3 linked regions of the Homo sapiens genome follow. The protein of the gene in region 1 purifies or fractionates together with the protein of each later gene. This does not show direct contact. Each region holds a gene or a part of one and is shown on either strand. Other genes may lie near its edges.

The links.
Region 2: the proteins of SETD1A (region 1) and OGT purify together in Homo sapiens (affinity purification with mass spectrometry; 4 studies listed by BioGRID and IntAct, with this or other methods). This does not show direct contact.
Region 3: the proteins of SETD1A (region 1) and BOD1L1 purify together in Homo sapiens (affinity purification with mass spectrometry; 3 studies listed by BioGRID and IntAct, with this or other methods). This does not show direct contact.

Annotation. Positions count from the first base shown.
Region 1 is NC_000016.10:30,960,734-30,967,753, reverse strand, and holds part of SETD1A (histone-lysine N-methyltransferase SETD1A), read right to left. Parts: intron 6,488-7,020; coding exon 6,217-6,487; intron 4,322-6,216; coding exon 4,200-4,321; intron 3,661-4,199; coding exon 3,431-3,660; intron 3,143-3,430; coding exon 2,293-3,142; intron 2,154-2,292; coding exon 1,368-2,153; intron 935-1,367; coding exon of another isoform or gene 871-934; coding exon 694-870; intron 254-693; coding exon 166-253; intron 1-165. UniProt on the Homo sapiens protein: Histone methyltransferase that catalyzes methyl group transfer from S-adenosyl-L-methionine to the epsilon-amino group of 'Lys-4' of histone H3 (H3K4) via a non-processive mechanism.
Region 2 is NC_000023.11:71,528,224-71,536,111, forward strand, and holds the start of OGT (UDP-N-acetylglucosamine--peptide N-acetylglucosaminyltransferase 110 kDa subunit), read left to right. Parts: upstream 1-4,880; 5' UTR 4,881-5,076; coding exon 5,077-5,113; intron 5,114-7,888. UniProt on the Homo sapiens protein: Catalyzes the transfer of a single N-acetylglucosamine from UDP-GlcNAc to a serine or threonine residue in cytoplasmic and nuclear proteins resulting in their modification with a beta-linked N-acetylglucosamine (O-GlcNAc).
Region 3 is NC_000004.12:13,624,718-13,632,384, reverse strand, and holds the start of BOD1L1 (biorientation of chromosomes in cell division protein 1-like 1), read left to right. Parts: upstream 1-4,659; 5' UTR 4,660-4,797; coding exon 4,798-5,040; intron 5,041-7,667. UniProt on the Homo sapiens protein: Component of the fork protection machinery required to protect stalled/damaged replication forks from uncontrolled DNA2-dependent resection.

The DNA.
Region 1 (7,020 bases):
AACTCTACCTGGTGCATCCCATACCTCTCAGAACTGCTGCATTTCAACCCTGCACCTCCACCTGGCTGTGCCCTCAGGACGACCTGACCCCTTCATCCCTACCTCTTGCTCTCCCATCAGAACCCACGCAGCACACCCCTTCTCCTTATGCCTGACCCTGCTCACCGTCTTCATCTTCCTCAGCAGGAGTGGAGGGACGAGGCCTCTTTTCCTCACTGGCCTCGGAAATTTCCGATGGCTCTTTCCGCTTTACCTGGGGGATGGGGAAAAGATGGGGCCTGTTTAGAGCTCAAACACTCAGGCAGAGCACGGTGGCTCACTCCTGTAATCCCAGCACTTTGGGAGGCCAAGGCAGGTAGATCACCTGAGGTTAGGAGTTCAAGACCAGCCTGGCCAACACAGTGAAACCCCAGCTCTACTAAAAATACAAAAATTAGCCAGGCGTGGTGGCGGGTGCCTGTAACCCCAGCTACTCGGGAGGCTGAGGCAGGAGAATCGCTTGAACCCGGGAGGCGGAGGTTGCAGTGAGCTGAGATCAGGCCACTGCACTCCAGCCTGGGCAACAGAGTAAGACTCCATCTCAAAAAAAAGAAAAAACTCAAACACTCATGGTTCCTGACCACCCCTACCCCAAGGAAGGGGGCCCCCTCTCCCTCTCCCCACCCTACCCCACAAAACGACAGTTCTGAGTACCTTGAATGAAGGCAGCCGCAGGGCCCCTCTCAGCCCTGACCCAAAGGCGAAAGCCTCGATGCCCGTAGTGCCCCCGCTCTTGGCCCAGTCCACGAGGGACAGCAGGCCAGGCTCCTTCAGCTTCGTCTTCTCTTTATCCTCCTCCTTGGCTTGCTGCTTGGCCGCGTTCTGGAATGGCTGCAGGCAGCAGTGGGGCTGAGCCCCAGCGCCCAGAACCCAGGCATTCCCTCCTGCCTGAGACCTACTCCCGGACCCCAGGAATACAGAACGCATCTACTTGCTGCTCCATATCTTGGTCACACCTGTCCCAGCCCCCGCACGGCATTTTCTCAAAAGTCTGTCATTTCGCCCACCAGTCTTAAGAAATAGCCACCATTCCCACTTCACAAGTGGCAAAATGGAAGACCAAAGCTTGAAGAGAGCTAAGGGCCTTGTCCACTGCAAGCCAGCAAGGAATGGAGCCAGGACAAAGCTCTGCTGCCTCCCAGGCCCATCTGTGCCTGCTTCTCTGTCCCCTCAACTCCCCTGCCCACCCAGGGTGGCCTGCAGGGCCTGCGGCCTCTCTCCACTCGCCTCCATCACCTGTCTCCTCTGAGCTGTGCAGCCTGGAGGAGCCAGAGGCCCATTTCCTCCTGCAAAGCCCAGGGCTCCCCGGTCCCAGGCGCTGGCCTCACCTTGGCCTTCTCCTCCTTGCTCTCCCACCACTGGTCAAAGGCTCCGAAGGCCACGTTCTCCACCATCTTGCGGTTGAGGTCTCGCTGCATGATGCTCTTCATCTCCTGGACCAGCATGGCGAGCACACGGCCCACGGTGCCTGCTGTCGGGAGGGTCTTGCCCTCTGCCAGCTCTGCTTCTTCCCTGGGTGGCAGCCGGGCCTCCTCTCCCGAGACTGAGGAGGAGGGCAGGGGCTCGGCTGCCATTGGCATGGGCAGGTGGTAGGCCTCCCGTGAGTATGCCCCTCTGCCCTCCTGCCCCTGTGCATATAGAGCATACGGCAAGCCGTAGGCTGCCTCCTGCGGGGGTGGAAACGGGAGGAAGGCCTCCCCAAAGGCCCCACCGGGGGGGCCAGCTGAGGCGGCAATCAATCCCTTGCCCTGCCGCAGCTGATGGAGCCGAGTTAACATCTGGGTCTGCATCTGGAAGGACATGGGCATCCCTCCCCACTGAGCCCCAAGTCGGTCCATGAGCTCCAAGGAGTTCACAAAGTCATAGATGTGCGGGGGTGGTGGAGGAGGTGGGGGGTACTCAGGGGGCGGCGGCCCATCAGGTCTGGGTGGGAGGAGGTAGGCAGGTTGGTGGGGAGGATAACCAAGAGGAAGGGACGCCAGGTAGGGAGGAGGAGGCGGCGGGGGAGGGGGAGGTGGCGGAGGCTGCTGAGGGGGCGTCGGGGCCGGAGGGGGTGAGCCACCCCGGTCGTCGTCGGAGATCTCCATGTCGTCTCCAGAAGAGCATGGAGAAGCCTGCGGGGGCAGAAGAGGGTCACAGAAGGCTTCTGCCTGACCCAAGCCCTACTTTCTCATCTGGTTCCCTTCCCTCTCCCCTAGGCCCAACCCTGACTCCCAGAGCCCAGGTGCCTCCTCTGGCTGACCCCAACCTCACCTGGTTCTGTCCATTTGCCTTGGGAGACTCCCGGGTAGCCCCTGGCTCCCCGCTCCCTGTAGGTGCCACATCCTCAAAATTAGCTGGGGCCGGAGGGGGTGTGCAGGGCCCATGCCCTGACCCAGAAGGCACCTCACTCCCTGTATCTCTGGCCCCAAGGACCATGCTGCTGTTCTCTTCCTCCTCCTCTGTGTCAGAGGCCAAGAAGGAAAACTTGGAGCGCTGCTCCTTCAGCAGCATCTCGATGCGGGAATCCAGGCTGCTGTGCTGGGCGAAGGGCACACTCTCATTGGTGGTCTCCGGGGCTGGGGAGCCAGAGCGGGCAGGGGAGGCTGGGCGGGGGGAAGTCCGAACTTCTTCTCTCTCAGGGCTGGGCCCTCCTCCACCCCCGCCTCCACCAGGTTCTGGAGGCTCCGGGGGTGGAGCCTCTGAGGCAGGAGGCCGGTAGTCCTGGTCGGTGGGCCGGCTGGGCTCGGGGGGCAGGTAGGAGGTGTAAGAAGGTGGGAAGCGCTCAGCTGTATTTTCAGCAAAAGGGGCTCCAGGGGGTTCCTCCCGTGTGGCCCGGCGTGGTGGGTAGGAAGTATGGCGCTGGTAGCGATTCCAGCTTTCATAATACGCTGGGTAGTTTGCATCAGAACTACGAAACTGAGAGGACGAGGAGGAAGAGGATGACGAGGAGGACGAGGACAATGAGGAGGAAGAGGCGGAGGATGAGGCAGTGGCTGCAGTGGTGGCGGCGATGGCCGTGGAGGCGGTTGTGGAGGCTGAAGATGCAGAGAAGTGGCGGCGGGAAAAGGCATCTTGGTAGCTGTTCTCTGACCGCCGGGGCTTGAAGGAGGTTGAAGTGGTGCTGGAGAAGAAGCAGGGGAGTTAGCTGGACTCAGCTCTCTATGACCAAACCACAGCGTACTGGGTCCCAGGGCCCAAAGCCCCTCTATGCTGCCCTCCAAAAGAAGAGCTATATGTTGGGTTCCTAGCTAGTGTGTTCCCCGAGGACAGCAATTTGTTGACTGAATCCACAGAGAAACTAGGACAAATTATTTCCAACTCCCTCTTGGAGACAGACTCTGGGCATCTTCTTCCCAGTGGCAGCTCCCAGACTTTGCGGGCGGGGCCCCAGGCGGGGTCTGCTCTGTACCTGCTGGAGTAGGCAGAGTCCTGAGAGTAGGGGGTGCTGCCCCGAGACGTGTAGGGGGTTCCTTGGGAGGACTGAGGTGTGAACTGGCCAAAGGAAGATGGGGTATCTTGTCGGCTGCTGGAGAAGCTTGTGTCCTGGGAGCAGGGGGTGCCGTTGCCAGGAGTGCCCACCGCAGTGGTGCCTGCTGGGTAGGCAGCTGTGTCAGAGGAAGAGCGGCGGCGGGATTCGGCCTAGAGCGACAGAGCAGGGCAAGGAGAGAGGAATGGGCTCAAACACCACTTGAGACCTGCCCTTTCCCAAACCAGGAATCCTAGTTCCCTTTTTTTTTTTTTGAGACGGAGTCTCGCTCTATTGCCCAGGCTGGAGTCCAGTGGCGTGATCTCGGCTCACTGCAAGCTCCGCCTCCCGGGTTCATGCCATTCTCCTGCCTCAGCCTCCCAAGTAGCTAGGACTACAGGCGCCCACCACCATGCCTGGCTAATTTTTTGCAGTTTTAGTAGAGATGGGGTTTCACCGTGTTAGTCAGGATGGTTTCAATCACCTGACCTCATGATCCACCCGCCTCGGCCTCCCAAAGTGCTGGGATTACAGGCGTGAGCCACTGTGCCTGGCCCCTAGTTCCCTGTCTTTTGAAAGCATCTCAGCAGCTTTGCTTGGCTCTTCTTTGTTTAACGGGAAAGCCCGGAACCTCCCGAAGACTGCTCCTGCTCCGGGCACCCGGACACCATGCCCACATGGCTAGGGGCTGTGGTAGCCACAAACTTCTCACCGTCTCAGTGGCTGCACCCGAGCCTTGGAACTTCTCACTCAGGGCCTTGCCCCCAGTGGGCACAGTCTGAGGGGTGTAGGAGCCATTGACAATTAGTTCATAGTATTTCATTCGTTGTTGTCCTGGAGGGAGGGAAATGGGAACCAATTGTCAGATGGAGATACTAACTCCTTCCTGATCTGGTATTCCTGCTTTCTCAGGCCTCAAGTTTCCTACAATTTCTTGGAATCTGGGTTTCAGGATTTCAGTTCTCCTACCATAACTCTACCTTTGGGACCTTCTACCTTATCTCTACCTCTAAACTACCACAAACAACATATTTTATGACACTTCACGATTTATCAAAAACACTTCTACTTATTTTACCATGTTGGATCACCAGAAGGGAAGCATCAGTACCTCTGTTCTAGAGGCTTAAAAGCGACCTACACAAAGTCACAGAATTGGTCATTGGAAAAATTGGAATTCAAACCCAGAGGCTCGATCACCCCATGCTCTTTATCCTGTAAACTAAAGCATGCAGAACAGCAACCGGGGGACTAACGGAGCCTGCAGGAGCTGTGGAGTGAACACCTCAGAAACACCTTGTGAGGAAAGAAACATGGTATTTAAAAACCATGAGATTTCACACAAAAACCCAAATTTCTGGCTTGAGTGCAGTGGCACGATGTAATCTCCACCTCCCAGGTTCAAGTGATTCTCATGCCTCAGCCTCTCGAGTAGCTGGGATTATAAGCATGAACCACCACGTCCGGATTTTTGTTATTTTTAATAGAAATGGGGTTTCACCATGTTGACCAGGCTGGTCTCGAGCTCCTGTCCTCAGGTGATCTGCCCACCTTGGCCTCTCAGAGTCTTGGGATTACAGGCGTGAGCCACCGCATGCCCGGCCCTGGCTTTCTTTTACAAACCAAATTCAAGAATGTTAAACCTCATTTCCACTTGCAAACTGGCCAGTGCCTACTAATGGCTGCCTCCTCCAGACAATACTGCAATCTGCAGCTCGCCACAGACCCCACTGCTCCCCATCACTCAACACAGAAGCCCAGACCACCTCGCTTGTGTTCACAGCTCCTTTACTCTCTATCTCAAATTTCCAAACCTAAAAACCCAGAAAATCCAGTATTTCTGAGAATCTGGCACCAAAACCTATATGGGTTATAGAATAGCATATAGAAAGATTAAAAAGAGGCCAGGCATGGTGGCTCATGCCTGTAATACCAGTACTTTGGGAGGCCGAGGCAGGCAGATCACTTGAGGTCAGGAGTTCAAGACCAGCCTGGCTAACAGGGTGAAACCCTATCTCTACTAAAAATACAAAAATTAGCCGGGCGTAGTGGCGCATAAATGTAATCCTAGCTACTCAAGAGGCTGAGGCAGAAGAATCACTTGAACCTGGGAGGTGGAGGTTGCAGTGAGCCAAGATCGTGCCACTGCACTCCAGCCTGGGCGACAGATTGAGATTCCATCTCAAAAAAAAAAAAAAAAAATTAAAAACAGGCTGGGCAGTGTAGTGAGACTTCATCTCTGCAAATAATCAAAAAAACTTTGGCCAGGTGTGGTGGTGCATGCCCATAATCCCAGCTACTCAGGAGGCTGGGGTGGCTGAGCCCAGGAGCTGGAGGCTGCAGTGAGGAAAGATCACGCCACTGCTCTCCAGCCTAGGTGACAGAGCAGGATCCTGTCTCAAAAACCAACCAAGCAACCAACCTGACCTGGGCTGATTTACTACAATCTATTCATCTTACCTAGTACAACCCTTCATATGATTTTTTTTTTTTTTTACAGATAGTTATGTGCTTGATTATGGCCTATTGCCCGACCTTGCTGGAGACACCACACACACAAAAATCCATGTACCATAATTCCACTCTAAAATCTGATCTGATTTCAGAAACACAACTGGCCCCAGCAGTTTCAGATCATGACCCTGGGCGCCTGCCTGACCCTGACAGGCATTTGCATGTACAACCTCCGCTGGAGGCCAAGCCTGAGTGGCAGGCAGAGGAGTCCTCACCTTTGATGTCAAGCTGGGCATGGATGATGTTGCCCATGACGGAGGTAAGGTGGAGGTTTTTGACCGTTTCCTTGGCGCCCCGAGTGCTGGTGAAGAGCACACGGGCCAGGCCCAGGTGCTTGCGCGTACGGGGGTGAAGGAGGATCTCTACCTCTTCCACCTCACCGTACTTACGGCACATATCCTTCAGGAAGGTCTCCCGCACGTTGTCATTCAGCCTTGCAAAAGTCACTTCCTTCAGTGGAATCTGTCCAATATAGAACTCGTCCAGCTGGGGAAAGAACAGGAGTTGGTATGGGGTCTCAACACTGACCACTGTTCCTTTGTCCTTCGGGAAACTTTAGCAAGCTCCATGAAGTCAAGAGAGAGATCCGGGAAAGTGAGGGGCAAGGGAAGGGGCCCAAAATAAGGGATCCATCAGACCTGACCCCTTTTCCCTGAATTCTTCTCACCACAGAATAACAGCAAGAATTAAGAACAGAAATGTGCAAACTAGGCCGGGTGTGGCAGCTCACACTTATAATCCCAACACTTTGGGAGGATGAGGTGGACGGATCACCAGAAGTCAGGAGTTCAAGACCAGCCTGTCCAACATGATAAAACCCTGTCTCTACTAAAAATACAAAAAAAAAAATTTAGCTGGATGTGATGGTGGGCACCTGTAATCCCAGCTACTCAGGAGGGTGAGGCAGGAGAATCACTTGAACCTGGCAGGCAGAGGTTGCACTAAGCCGAGATCACACCACTGCACTCCAGCCTGGGCAACACAGCGAGACTCCGTCTCAAAAAAAAAAAAAAAAAAAA
Region 2 (7,888 bases), on another chromosome or scaffold:
ACTTTTCTTCTGCCTGTCAGTGTATGATTGCCCCCAGCACCATTATTATTTTGCAGGTTTTTTCAGCTCCTCTGTAAGGCTTGTCACAACCATAGTGTCACTACTTTGGACAGAATCATCAACTCTTGCAACCCCAGGAGGACAGTCAGGATTAGAATTCAAATGACAGTGGGTACTTTCAGACACACACATAGACAACTGCACCTGTGAGTCCACAGAAGTTCCTTTAGATTCTGTATTGGAGGTAGTAATGATGAAAGTGTCTTCAGGAATGTCTTCATGGCTTGCTCTTGGGCTCTGCATTGTAACTCCTTACAGGTACCAATGAACAAGCCATTCAGAGATGGATCCACAAAGATCTCTGGAGCAACGACCAGGTCCTGCTCTACCCGATTCTCAGCTTTGGGGATAGAATTCCCAGAAACATCTGTGTCCGGAGTTGGTTCCTTCCAGTGGGTTCTTGGTCTTGCTGACTTCAAGAATGAAGCCGTGGACCTTCGCGGTGAGTGTTACAGCTCTTTAAAGGTAGCACAGACCCAAAGAGTGAGCGGCAGCAAGATTTATTGTGAAGAGCAAAAGAACAAAGCTTCCATAGCGTGAAAGGGTACCCAAGCAGGTTGCCAGTGGGGCTGGGGGCGGCCAGCATTTATTCCTTTATTTGTCCCCGCCCACATCCTGCTGATTGGTCCATTTTACAGAGTGCTGATTGGTCCATTTTACAGAGTGCTCTTTGGTGTTTTTACAATTCTTTAGCTAGACACAGAGCGCTAATTGGTGCATTTTACAGAGTGCTGATTGGTGCATTTACAATCCTTTAGCTAGAAACAGAGCGCTGATTGGTGCGTTTTGTTTTTGTTTTTTTTTTTGAGACAGAGTCTCGCTCTGTCGCCCAGGCTGGAGTGCAGTGGTGCAATCTCAGCTCACTGCAACCTCCGCCTCCTGGGTTCATGCCATTCTCATGCCTCAGCCTCCCAAGTAGCTGGGACTACAGGTGCCCGCCACCACGCCTGACTAATTTTTTGTATTTTTAGTAGAGACGGGGTTTCACCATGTTAGCCAGGATGGTCTCCATCTCCTGACCTCATGATCTGCCTGCTTCAGCCTCCCAAAGTGCTGGGATTACAGGTGTGAGCCACTGCACCTGGCTGGTGCATTTTTACAGAGTGCTGATTGGTGCATTTACAATCCTTTAGCTAAACACAGAGTGCTGATTGGTGCGTTTTACAATCTTCTTGTAAGACACAAAAGTTCTCCAAGTCCCCACCCAACCCAGAAGTCCAGCTGGCTTCACCACTCACTTCCATGGGAGAACTGTCCAGACAATAGCATGACACCCTTGCAAAGGATAAAGCCTCTCATCTAAAGGCATAGAATACTGAATATAGTCTTGAGGCATAAGTCCAATAAGTACAGGCACATGTTCCTTGAAGTGAAGATGCAAGTCTCCATTCTGAAATTTTGAACTCTTTACTTTGTTCTTTGTATGCAGCTTCAGGCTGAAGATAGTGAAAATCCGTGCCAGACTTGGATTGGAAGAATGAACCAAGGCTTTGAGTCTCTTCGTCTCATCTCCGTTTTGATACGTGTCTCCTTAGTTTGTAAGCCAAGGAGAGGACTACAGTGAGGATTGTGGAGGGAAGTGGACCTTATTGGTCTTTGAGCTCTCACATCTTTAAAGACTGTTGGTGCTGAGAGAAAAAGTATCCTCATCTGGCAGAACTCCCATAGGGTGTGCTCCCCTTGCTGTTCTGCTTTTGTTTTGCAGAAAGCTGCCTTTTTCAATGTACTCATTAGGCTTTCATTGTTTTTTCCTTTTTTACCTTTTTCATCTTTCACTGTTGATATCACAGGTGGCCATATCTTTACCAGTGCAGCTACCAAATAAGAAATCATCTTTTCCACATTCACTAGTTAGTGATGGTTGTTGTACTACCATGAAATCAGTTTCTTCTTTACTTTTATTCAGGTTACAAGATTTCTGGAAGGTTTTAAGATCAATTTTAATTAGTCTTTGTGACTGGTTACTTCATCCAGGGGACCAATTTCTCTCTGGAATATTAGTCCCGCACCCCTGGAGAGCCTGTGCGGCTGCATCTCCCTCCGGAGGTGGTTCTGGAGTTGGTTCCTTTTGGTGGGTTCCTGGTCTCGCTGACTTCAAGAATGAAGCCACGGACCTTCACGGTGAGTGTTACAGCTCTTAAAGGTGGCACGGACTCAAAGAGTGAGCAGCAGCAAGATTCATTGTGAAGACGGAAAGAACACAGCTTCCACGGTGTGGAAAGAGACCCGAGTGGGTTGCTACTACTGGCCTGGTGGGTGGGTGGGTGGGTGGGTGCGGAATGTGGCCAGCTTTTATTCCCTTATTTGTCCCCACCCATGTCCTGCTGATTGGTCCATTTTACAGAGTGCTGATTGGTCCATTTTACAAGGTGCTAATTGGTCCATTTTACAGAGCGCTGATTGGTCCATTTTACAGACTGCTGATTGGTCCATTTTACAAACCTCTAGCTAGCCACAGAGCACTGATTGGTGTGTTTTTACAGAGCACTGATTGGCGCATTTTACAAACCTCTAGCTAGCCACAGAGCGCTGATTGGTGCGTTTTACAATCCTAGCTACAGAGTGCTGATTGGTGCATTTTACAATCCTCTTGTAAGACAGAAAAGTTCTTTAAGTCCCCACCCAACCCAGGAAGTCCAGCTGGCTTCTCCTCTCACATCTATGTATTTCTTTGGCTTCATTTAACCTTTGGAGCCATTTTTTTTCAGCAGCAGTGCAACAGCAGCCACCAGCCCGGGTCTCATCCAGCGCTGGTGCTACTGCTGTGAAATGTGTGTTGTTCTGAGCAGCTGTATTTGTGATACTTTGTTACACAGCAGCAAAAAAAGTAATGCAACATCAGTGGTGTTACTGGGTGACAAAGTTTGGGATTGGGGTTGAAGACCCAGCTGATTTAATTATAATTGGTTCTAAATTTAAAATTGCACATAAAAAAAACCCAGAAATCAATGTGAACAACAATAAAAAACATACAAAAGCACTTCCTTCAATGTCTAGATCAAGGCTTCTTTCTCACCCCCTCCAACCTTACCTGTTTCCTCCCTAGATATTCATAGAGAGTAATATATTTTATCATCTAAATAGTCTTCTGTATTGCTCTCTAGTAGCTTTTTGTGTCTACCTAACTAGGCTTCAGATTCCTTGAGGGCGAGGATTTCTGTTCATTTTTGTGCCCCCCACAGTGCCTTGCACATAGAGACTCTAGTAAATGTTACTTATTGGCTGAAGAATTAGGAACATGACCTGCATTTAACAACAAAAAGAGTTTTTGTTAATTAGCTAGCACCCGCTCATCAGCAAGGCCTAAACATCTGCCAGTGGAATCTGAGAAGTCTCTTCTAAAAGTTGAAAAGCTGAGTTTACTCATTACAGATAGGGAACTTGTAGTAGGTGTGTGTGTGCGGGGGGGAGGTTTTACCAGTTAAATCAAATTACAAGAGGTTGGTGCTCAATTTTCAGGAGAGTTTGTGTAGTGATTTTTGTCTTTTTCACTGCATGATGTGACTCTTGATTATGGGATGGAAGAAATTAGCATTATGAATTTTCTCTGTGCCATTTCCATAATTAATTGTTTGTTGACTGTTTTGAAGAAATTTAAGCAGAATTTGAGGACTTAGTTTTAAAAAATGTAGTGAAGGGGCTAGGTAGCAAAAACTTTTTGAAGAAATTCATTGACCTGCTTTCTTAGATCAAGGACTTTTTGAAATAAAAAGGCTCTCAGAGATCCAACTTGTAGCCTCCAGTGGCTTGTAATACTTTCTTGCTGATGTGGCAAGCTACCTTAAGTCGTTTCTAGAACAAGAGGTGAAGTATAAATACCAATGTGACAAAATGTCTGAACAGTAGACTTGAAACTGCAGGAAGATCGTAAGAACCGATTTGTTCAAGGAAGTAGAGGCAATTCATGACTCAATCTAGACGTGTGGTTTAGGCAGATGGCAAGTGAATTCATTTATCATTGTTGATCTGCTTTGAGCTCAGTGGAATCGCCGACTGTGACAATGTGCAGAGCTAGCTGGTGGAAATGAAGTCACAACTCGAGGAGAGTCATGGATTTTGACGAACGTGAATCACCTTTAACATTTTTATGGCTGCCTTCGGAGTGCAAACGCCCAGCATGTCCCTGAGTTATTAAACATTTGCCCTATCACCGTGGGCAGGAGTATTCTGAATACCAAAACGATTTTGAAATTTCAGGCTATACGGCCAACATTGAAGGTGTCTGCATTCAACTGGCCCTGTGAAAGCTTCAGTCTTTTTCATCGAAGTGCTGAAATCGATGGCCGAGTCACAATGAAGACGGGCTCAAATCGGAACCCTCTCGCTCCTCGTTTTGAGCAGCTGTCTTTGAGAGGCAATCTTCTGAATTGACTGGCTCAGAATTGATCCGTGAGAGTCGTAACCATCCGTTTTTGTACGAATACAGTTGATAAACTTTTTTAGACGCCTTTGGCATTTATGTTTAAAACGACACCACCTGCTAAGTAACAAACACTCTTCTTAATCGCGGTGGCAAAAACGTATCCGTCCCGTGTGTGTTTGTTTTTACCCTTCCGCTACACTCTTAAGAAACTTGGCCGCTTCCGCCCCAGAGAGTGCCCTAACCACGAGTCGGGTTGACAGGGCTGCTCGCATGCGCGGTCTCCACCGTGGTGTTTGTCGCAATGGGCGCTGCGCGGAGGACTACATGGAATCTCGACTTTGCAGCTTGAAGTCATTTTGTTGGCGGCGCTGGTTACCGGCTACCTCCGCGCGGGCACTTGATTGTAACAGAAAGTAGTTCCGGCCCATGTTGTTTCGGCCGAGGAGCCGTCGCCGCCATTTCAAGACCGTACTAGGTAGATGGTCAATTAGAGTTCCCAGGGTTTGAAGCCTGTAACTGCTGCCGCCGCTCAAGCCCTCCAGAGCATTGCTACGGCTGCTGCCCTTGTACTACTACCTCCAAATACGTTCTTGCTGGTAGTGGCGGCAGCAGGACCAATTACCTCTTTTTTGCTCTCCCTCGAGAAGCTCCAGATGGCGTCTTCCGTGGGCAACGTGGCCGACAGCACAGGTACCGGTGTCCCGTTCTACCTTGGCAGATGCCCCCTTGGGGTCTCGCGCCGTCCTCTACCTTGTATCACTCCTTCCCTCCCTTCCCTCGAACCATCCCCATTACATCAGTGACATTGCTAAGCTTTTCGTGGTCTACTGGCATCTGATCACATCGGGTTTTCCGCTGTTGTCCGCTTCCCGAACATTTCCTCCTCCTCCCTTGCTTGCTTTTTGCTGCCTTTCTTGCTTTGTTTTTATTTCGTAAATGTTCTAGCATTCCACTCTCTCCAGGCGCTTTTATCACACGTGCGCGCTTAGAATGTCGTGGAATGGACTGCATTGGAATCCCTGCCCTTTCACTCCTTTGCAGCGGTTTTCTCCCCTAATTCCAGCTCATCGCCTCTCCTTTTTCCCCTCCATCTCCTCCTTCATCTCCCCCCCCAGTCTTTTCCCCTTAGCCAGATTTGGTCCTTCTCTGCCAATCTAGGGCGGGGGTGCCGTTCCGATGTAATCATATCCTCACTTTGCATCACCCGAGGACGATCAAAAGCTCGTCGATGGTGCCACAAGTCACCTCGAGAAGAGGGGACATTGAGCAGCACCCTGCTAGGCAGTGCCTTTCTGGTGTTCTTTCGGTTGAGCGGTCCCGGTTTAGATTGGAAATTTCCAGGGGTTTCCTTTGCCATCGCCCAATTCCACCGCTGCCCTCAGCCTGGATTTCCCACCCTGTCCGCGGGGAACCACACCCTTCCCTTCGCGAGGTTGCCAGCCCTGTTCACTTCCTATCCTTGGGGGAGAAACCACCCCGATGCTGCTGCTTTGGCGTTGACCACCCTGCCCGCCCAATTCTCGCTTTGTGTTACTTTCTCGATGTATTCCTCCGCCGCCGCCTCTGGGTCTGCCATCCCCATTCTTCAGCCCAGTATCTCTTTATTCACAGGGTGTAATATTCTTTTAAGTTTCCATCCCTGCTTGAAGAGTTTGTAAAGCAACTGGAGTGTAGCTGCACAAGTACAAGGCGGTTGCCCTTTTAGACACTTCAGTCGCGAGCATTTGGTACTGAAAATACGAAAACAACCAAATTGTAGGAGTGTCCTTCAGCTGCCTTTCCATATTGAGGCGATTTGGGCGGAAGGGGGTGGGGAATTGGGCTGCGCTTCTGAGGTTTCCCGCGAGGTTATTTTTTGGTTGTTTCTCAGTTGAGATGTGTGGAGGGTTTTAGCTACTGTTCCTGGAAGTTGTGCTGTAAGTAGTAGGTGAATCGTCAATAGTGTCTTATCCGTAATTGTAGGGAGTGGGATTAATAATTAGTCCGTGCTCCTCTCCCCACGTCTCCACCGTGATTTTCAAAGGTTTAAGATTCTGTACTGGATTCTGTACTAGCTTGCCCTTTTTAATGTGTTATTTATTTGAGAAAGCTGTCGTTTCAAGTGTTAAAATAGCAGATAAGCGGCATTGAAAAGTGACAAAGTAATGTGTGAAAACAAGGAGCTAGGAAGTTCTAGAGACTTAGCTAAAATGTAATTTTAGTTTCTATTAAAGATATAACCTCTCCCAGATGTGGATGCAAGTCTCAATGCTCTTTGTGTTGGTGGTCAGCTGTGCATTCTGTCAGGAAATTTACTTTGCTTTCCTCAGTATCCGGAACGCTCATCAGCTCTGATGATTGGGGAGCTGGGCTCAAATTTGAACTAGTCACCTTAACCTTGGTAGAATTAAATAATTTGTCCATGGTTTCCCATTTCAACCAGCTAGTGAAGTGCTACGGTCGAATTCCCAGTTTAAGTATTTACAGTTGTGACAAGCAGTTTTTTTTTTTTTTTTTTCCCTCTCTGGGCTTTAGCTATATCCTTTAAAGATCTTTATGTATCTGGATTAAGTCACTTGCAGCGAAGTGCTTTTATTTATTCATTATGTTGCGCTTTATCAAATATATTTTAGCGTCCATCCTCCCTCCCTCCCAACGTTTTGACCATTGCAGTTGCAGGTAACTGCCTGGCTTATATAGGCTTGTTTGCAATGTCTTAATCCTTTAGTCAATACCAGAGCTGTTTGGAAAATGTTAGTGCTAAACCAACGTGGGTGGGATTTAGCCAATTTAGTCTCCTTTTGAGTTTGGGATGGTAGAGGAGCAGTGTAATCTTGGGTCTTTATTTAAAATGTTTGATGACCCCTTTAACTATTTTGGCTGTTGTCAAATGACAAACATCTTGTTTATCAGCTGTTTTAAAAATAGCACTTTGACTTTTTGGTTTTTCCCTTAGGCTCGTTTCTACTTGTCCTTTTAAAGAATTAAATTCTGAAATATACAAAAATTGATATAATTTAAAGAATTAACACATCTGGTGTCCTCACTGAGGTTAAGATTGATAGATTGTTACCAGTACTCCACCTCAACAAATCCAACCTGAAATATGGCACAAAATATTACGTTTCCCAATATGTTATTCTGATATTATTAAGTCTTTGTGACCTTGCAAATCACACGTTTAATATTTTGTTTCTGTATGTTAACTAAGGTATAAGGAATAATGTTCAGTGAATCCTTAGATGCTACCTATGATTTATAATTTAAAAGTACAAAGTATTTTTGGTCATAAAATGTAATCTCATATGGAAGTAAATATTCCTTTCTAGTTTGGGAAAGAAAGTATTAATGGGTGAATTCTAAAAATGCCAATTCTGCACTTGATGTTAACTTGAAGATATACATAACGTGCAGAACACTCTAGTGCTTTACATAGTTTCAAGCATTTCCATTTTTAAGTTAAATATACCATATTTTTACATTTTT
Region 3 (7,667 bases), on another chromosome or scaffold:
GTGAAACCCCATCTTGACTAAAAATACAAAAAATTAGCCAGGCATGGCAGGGCATGCCTGTAGTCCCAGCTACTCAGGAGGCTGAGGCAGGAGAATTGCTTGAACCCAGGAGGCGGAAGTTGCAGTGAGCCAAGATAGCGCCACGGCACTATGGCCTGGACGACAGAGTGAGACTCTCTCTCCTGTCTCAAAAAAAAAAAAAGGTGATATTGTAGACATCAAGAGAATGGCTACTGTTCAAAAAGGAATGCCCCACAAGTGTTACCATGGCACAACTAGAAGAGTCTACAATGTTACCCAGCACGCTGCTGGCATTGTTGTATACCAACAAGGGCCTGATTCTTGCCAAGAGAATTAATGTGCGTATCGAGCACATTAAGCTCACTAAGAGCCGAGATAGCTTCCTGAAACACATGAAGGAAAATGACCAGAAAAAGAAAACAAAGAGAAAGGTACCTGGGTTCAACTGAAGTGCCAGCCTGCTCCACCCAGGGAAGCACAGTTTGTGAGAACCAATGGGAAGGAGACTGAGCTGCTGGAATCTATTCCCTATGAATTCATGGCAAAATAAGTGTTAAAAAAATAAAAGACCTCTGGACTGCAAAAATGTTTCTCTTCGGCTGGGCGAGGTGGCTCATGCCTGTAATCCCAGCACTTTGGGAGGCCCAGGCAGGCAGATCATGAGGTCAGGAGATCGAGACCATCCTGGCTAACACAGTGAAGCCCCGTCTCTACTAAAACTACAAAAAAAATTAGCCGGGCATGGTGGCGGGCACTTGTAGTCCCAGCTACTCAGGAGGCTGAGGCAGGAGAATGGTGTGAACCTGGGAGGCAGAGCTTGCAGTGAGCCAAGATCGCACTACTGCACTCCAGCCTCGGCGACAGAGCAAGACTCCGTCACAAAAAAAAAAAAAAAAGTTTATCTTCATTGAGTAGAAGTGTGGTGTCTTCTCCCTTAAAGAAATATTTAAAGCACATTTTAATTGTGTCCTAATTCATTATGTAATGTCTTTACTGTTCAAATTTAACGTATTTCTTGCTGAAAAATGTGAGGTAGCTTATTGTGGAACAAATTACTCAATTGGTTAGAAAATGGCAAGATATTATTTATGAAATATTTGTACTGGTTTGAATATAGTCCCTCTAAATCATCATGGAAGAAATAAAATAATTTACCAAAAAAAAGAAATTATATACTCTTTTCTAGAGAGACAATCAGGAGGAAACACAGCAAAGACGTCATTGGTAGGAAATGCTGACTGCTTAAAGCAGTCTTTTAAAAAGATTTAAATGTATGCTTTTTGTTGTTGTTTTTTGGGTATTTAAAACACTCATCCCTAGGACCTGTATTCATACGAAAAGAAAATCACCTTGGAACAGCCAAGGCAGTGCAGATCGGTGACCCAGATTCTTTTCAATGTATCTAGAATGTTTTTCAAGGCTACAAAATTGTTCAAGTTACATTGCAACCAGTATAATGTGTCTACCCAGTGTAACTTGAACTCAGAGATACAAAGATGTATCTTTTAGATTCAGTGTGTGTTATTCAATAAGGCAATTAGGGCACATTTGAGAAAATGGATTGTGAACCATTATAAAGTTCTCATCTTCTTGCATTGTAGAAAATATTTAAGATTTTCTATATACTGTTCACAAAACAAATTATTTATTAGCCACTGACCCAATTCATTTTTAGCAGTAAATACTTTATTGTCTCATTACTTTTTTAAACTTGGACATTATGCCTAATTAAATTTGTAAAGTTTTTCAGAACTTTTATGGATGATTTCTACTTAGTTATTCCCAAAAAGCTGAATAAATTTGATTCACACATCCAAATATACCAAAGAAATACCATGTCTTTTTATCATACCACACACTTAAAAACTTATAAACTTAGAATATAGCAACATATATTATATTGTATTGTTGGTAATTAAGTAAATGTTATAGTCTCACCTTTTCATAACTAATTTTTATTTTTTTTTATTTTTTTTTTGAGACCCAGAGTCTCACTCTGTCGCCCAGGCTACAGTGCAGCGGTGCGATCTCGGCTCACTGCAAGCTCCGCCTCCCGGGTTCCTGCCATTCTCCTGCCTCAGCCTCCCAAGTAGCTGGGACTACAGGCGCCCACCACCACGCCTGGCTAATTTTTTGTATTTTTAGTAGAGACGGGGTTTCACCGTATTAACCAGGATGGTCTCGATCTCCTGACCTCATGATCCGCCCATGTCGGCCTCCCAAAGTGCTGGGATTACAGGCGTGAGCCACCGCGCCCGGCTCATAACTAATTTTTAAAATGAATAAAACATTTATATTTTACGCTATTTTAGTCTTGTAATCTTGACTGCTTTTTTTTTTTTTTTTTTTTTTGAGACAGGGTGTCACTCTGTCACCAAGGCTGGAATGAAGTGGCACCACCATAGCTTATTGCAGTCTTAACCTCCTGGGCTCAAGCAATCCTCCCACCTCAGTTTCTCAAGGTCTGCAACATCACACCTGGTTACTTTTTTGTTTTGTTTTGTTACTGGTCTTGAACTTGTGGCTTCAAGCCACCCACCTGCCCCAGCCTCACAAAGCTCTAGGATTACAGGGGTTTGCTGCCACGCCCAGCCTTGACTGCATATAGTAATTAATCTTTTAAGATTCATATCCATGACTTTCTCCTCTCTGCTATCTTCATCAAACTCCTCAAAACACACAGGATACTCTGAATTGAAACAATGAAGTCAAATTGTTTCTGATTTAAAGTAAATCTGATTTGTCTAGTTTGACAATGAAAATGGGCTCTGTTAATTAGGTTATAAGGTAAACATTTAACATTCTTAACAAACCTTTTTTTTTCTTGTTTTTGAGAAGGGTCTCACTCTGTTGCTCAACCTGGAGTGTACTGGCCCCATCATGGCTCACTGCAGACTTGACTTCTTGGGCTCGGGTGATCCTCCCACCTAATCCTCCCAAGTAGGTAGGACTACAGGTGCACGCCACTACACCGCCTAATTTCTTTTATTTTTTTGTAGAGGTGGGGTCTTGCCATGTTGCCCAGGCTGGTCTTGAACTCTGGACTCAACCGATCCTCCCGCCTCAGCCTCCCAAAGTGCTAGGATTACAGGCGTGAGACACTGTGCCCAGTGACAAAGATTTTGAACTTGAATGAGCTAAATCTGCAGTTGCAAATTTTGACAAAAACATAATTTAACCACCTGATAACAAAAATAAATCTTATCCAAAACTATTTATGAAAATGAAAAATGTTTAGATATTCTCCAAACTTTCAGTATATCAGGTGAAAGGTACACCTCATTGAAAAAATCAGGTCTAATTCATAGTCATTTGGTATCTTGGTAAAACCTATCTGGTATATTTCCCAGAATCTGAAAGAGTGAAAAAATAAGGATTAAGTAAACAAATCCTTTGGCAAGCCAGGTGGTTTTCAGCTCTTTGCTTTCCATAAAATAGAAGGAGGGCCTAATTGAAGTCAGCTCATAGATAATCAAATCTAATTTTTTGAGGTCAAGAATTGAATGATATTGCTACAACAAAACTCTTCCATTCCTAGGCACAGTACTTGTTTATATGAACAAGGTTTCTCAGGGCACACAGCTATAAAAATTACAAATAGGAATAGAATTGATGCTCAACCCTTCTTTTCCTACTAATAAGATATATTCAGCCACAGATGTAGGAACTTTAAAAAGCAACAATATGCATTTTTCAATAAAGTTACACACACTATTTAGTAATTATGAAATTTTCTAATATTTATGTTGCTTTGACCACGTACTAATAATAATTTCAAAGATGATGCAGTCCAAAAGCAGGTGATTTGCTAGCTGTGTAATCTTACTCAACATACTTAATTTATCTGAGCCTTGGTTCCCTGATTTGCAAACTGGGGACAGTAATCAGACCTAGCTCTTAGTGTTTGTCCAAAGATTAAATGCGTTAATACATGTAAAAGCACTTAACGCCACGCTTGGTACATAATATGTGCTATAGATGTTTTACCTGCTATAATCATAGTAATCAATAGCAAATCTCCTAAAAATAAAAGCCTGTCGATTTGTCTTCACAGATAGGAAGAACGGGCTGGAGGGATCGGATCTAATCCACAGGCACACTGCCAGAAACAAGGGACCCCCACGGGGAAATGGTATGTGCAGGCAGAAGAGAGACAGAAGGAACTTGGAGCTACCTGCTGGGACAAGAATAGTGCAGGATCACAGGCTAAGAACGAAGAGGGTTGGGCGAAGTTAGAATGAGCAGATCCACGTAGGGTTCGCATTACAAATGTCTATGGATCTCTATGCACTGCTCCGGGAAACTGGAGCAAGAGAGGCAGGCCTAAAATGCCGTCGCGGATGAAGCGGGGCCAGAAACGCACTGCCCCCGCTCAGACCTAGGGCCCCAGGTGTCGCGCGGGTCGAAGCCCTAACCTCCAGGGACTCCAGACCCCTGCCGGTGACCTAAACCCCACAACCCGCGACCAGCACAGTCTTGTCGTCTCCGTCGCCACAGTCGCCGCCACTTCCGGCGCAGCTCGGCCTCGCGAGGGCGCTTGCGCCCGGCGACGGTCGAAACTGGCTCTTCGCGGCCTCCGTCGCCGGACTTTCGTCAATGTTGTCACCGTCTTTTCCTCCTTTCCCCCAGTTCCCTTTCACTTCCGGGGTTGCTCTGGATCCGCTGGTTCCGTAACAACATCCCGTTGGCTTCCCTCAGGCGGCGGGACCAGTGCAGCCGCCGCCTCCCAGGATCGTCCGCCGGTCAGGGCCCTTGCCCTCCCCGGCACAGGCCACCATGGCCACCAACCCACAGCCGCAGCCGCCTCCTCCGGCGCCGCCGCCTCCCCCGCCGCAGCCGCAGCCGCAGCCACCGCCGCCGCCGCCGGGCCCCGGGGCTGGCCCCGGCGCGGGCGGGGCGGGCGGCGCGGGTGCGGGCGCCGGGGACCCGCAGCTCGTGGCCATGATCGTGAACCACCTCAAGAGCCAGGGGCTCTTCGACCAGTTCCGCAGAGACTGCCTGGCCGACGTGGACACCAAGGTTAGGAGCGCGCCGGGTTTGGGGGTCTGCGAGGGAAGGGGAGGACCCAAGGGCGCGCTTCTTTTGCAGTGGCTTCCTCTTGGAGCTGCAGCTGTGTGCCACGGACTGTGCAAAGCACAGAGTGTTCATTCCTTAGCGTGTCCTTTGGTTCGTTTTACCGACTAGTGTTTAAGTACCTACTACGTGCCAGTCATGGTTTCGGCACAGTGATTACCCCGGTCTGATGAGCAAGACTAAGGCATTGTTCTTACAGGAACTGGTTTGGAAACAGTGGCGCTAACAGTAGCCAGTTTTGTATTCATTCTCATATCTGATGATTTTACTTTGTATCGAAGTTATGTTTGCCTTCTTTCTTGAAGGTTTCTGGGCGGTAAGGGCCTTTATCCTTTGGAGAAATGACTAAATGGTAATTGAATCAAGTTATGTGTAATATGCTTTGCTGGACATCGTGGGGGTGGGAGCGCAAAGATAAGGAGGCAAACCTGAGACAGGACTTTAGTATTGTTTCTAGCAGTGATTGCCTGATTTAGGTAACTTAGGCCATGTCACCATTCTAAGGTAAGAAGGGACAGGAAGGTGGGGTAGAGAGAACCGAGTCATTCAGTGGAGAAAAGATGCAGGAGAGGTGACAGCAGATACTGAAGTGGAGAAAGGACAGGAAAGAGAGCAGATTCAGGAGAGTAATGTAGAGAAGGGAAAGGACAGCAACAAGGTTCCCTGTCCAGAAAGAGAGGCTGGAAAGGGGAAGGGATTTTGTACCAAATGTCAGAGTGAAAGGGACATTAGCAGGAACAAGTAAACTTAGCTGGATTGGCAAAGAATTAGCCAAAGACACCAGGAAAGAGCAGTCAGTGAGATGGATGGAAAACCACAGTACAGTCTAGAATTCTGGAAGCAGAAAGCATGTTGGAAAATTAACTGGTTTGTAGGGGTTGTTTTTGTCTGCTTGTTAAATCTGGTTGGGTCCATTGGATTGGAGTTTTGATGAAATGAGGGTTTCCTTTTTTTTTTTTTTTTTTTTTTTTGAGACAGAGTCTCGCCCTGTCGCCAGGCTGGAATGCAATGGCGTGATCTCGGCTCACTGCAACCTCCGCCTCCCGGGTTCAAGCGACTCTCCTGTCTCAGCCTCCCAAGTAGCTGGGATTACAAGCGCGTGCCACCACGCCCTGCTAATTTTTGTATTTTTAGTAGACACAAGGTTTCACCGTGTTGGCCAGGATGGTCTCGATCTCCTGACCTCGTGATTCGCCCAGTAGGCATGAGCCACCGCGCCCGGTCGAGGGTTTTCTCATAGTATGTTTAGTTGTTCTGAGGAGCTTTGTATCTTTGAGAAATGCATGTTTACAACATCCACAGTTTCTTCTAAAGCTTTCAGGTGAACTGCACACAGTTCCACTATGTCTTCTGGGGAAACTCTTGAATATCCTGGTACATCTTCCTTTATAAGGACTCATACTGGGCCCACTATGTAAAACGTGGTTTTTCGGGATATTGGAGGTTTTGCACCACAGAGAATTCAATTCACTTGGGAGTGTTCATCTATTTAGGAAGTATAGTTTTTTTTACTTTTGTCTTCAGGAATATGCACTGCTACCTTTTAGAAATAATTTCTATTGCCTTTATTATTTTTGTTGTTATTTAATGGGAAAAGGTTAGACATGGCCAGGTAAATGTTATCAAATAAAGTTAGTTATTCGTATTCAACAAGTGGAATTTTTACTTTGCTGTTCTCAGAAACCCATGAATCTGTGTGTTCTCAGAAACCCATGAATCATTATGTATACAAATTAAAAATTGTAATGTACTGCTGCAATGTCTGAGGCTCAACTTTTTTATTATCCTATTCCCACAAAATGTTATTGGTATGTGTCTATAATATCCCTGCCAGACCCTTCAAAGTAAAGGATTAAAACCTTTTTTGGAGGGAAGGAGGGAAGCACAGTATCTCTGATCATCTAATGAAAGTTAGGACCTTCTCTCAAGAAAAATGCGCAAGTAACACATTAAAACGCTGTTTTTCTACTTCAGAATGGTCAACTATAGGCAATTTCATGAGAATCAATCTAATAACATATACAGTTTCAGTGAGTTCAGGAACCATGGAATAAGAACCTATTTTAATGTTCTTAGCCTCTTTTTTGAGGTCAAGAATTGAATGATATTGTTACAACAAAACTCTTCCATTCCGAGGCACAGTACTTGTTTATATGAACAAGGTTTCTCAGGGCGCATGACTATAAAAATTAGAAATAGGAATAGAATTGATGATCAACCCTTCTTCTAGTAATAAGACATATTCAGCCACAGATGCAGGAACTTTAAAAAGCAACAGTATGGCCAGGCCCGGTGGCTCATGCCTGGCCACCGTGGGCCAAAGTAGAAGATTCCCTGTTCATGCAAAGAACCATCACTTTAATGGAATCCTTGAGTTTCATCTGCCACTTGAACCTCAAAGACTGACCTGCTTTCTGTCAAAAAGTCTTAACTTGTAGCATATAGAGTTATAGTGGATTATGTCTGTCACGTGCATATTTAAGAATGAAGACATTTGATACCTGCCAGGTGCTAAGAGCAAAACTGTCATCCAGTTTAGTGTGTTTAAACCAGGATGAGAAGTACCAAAGTCT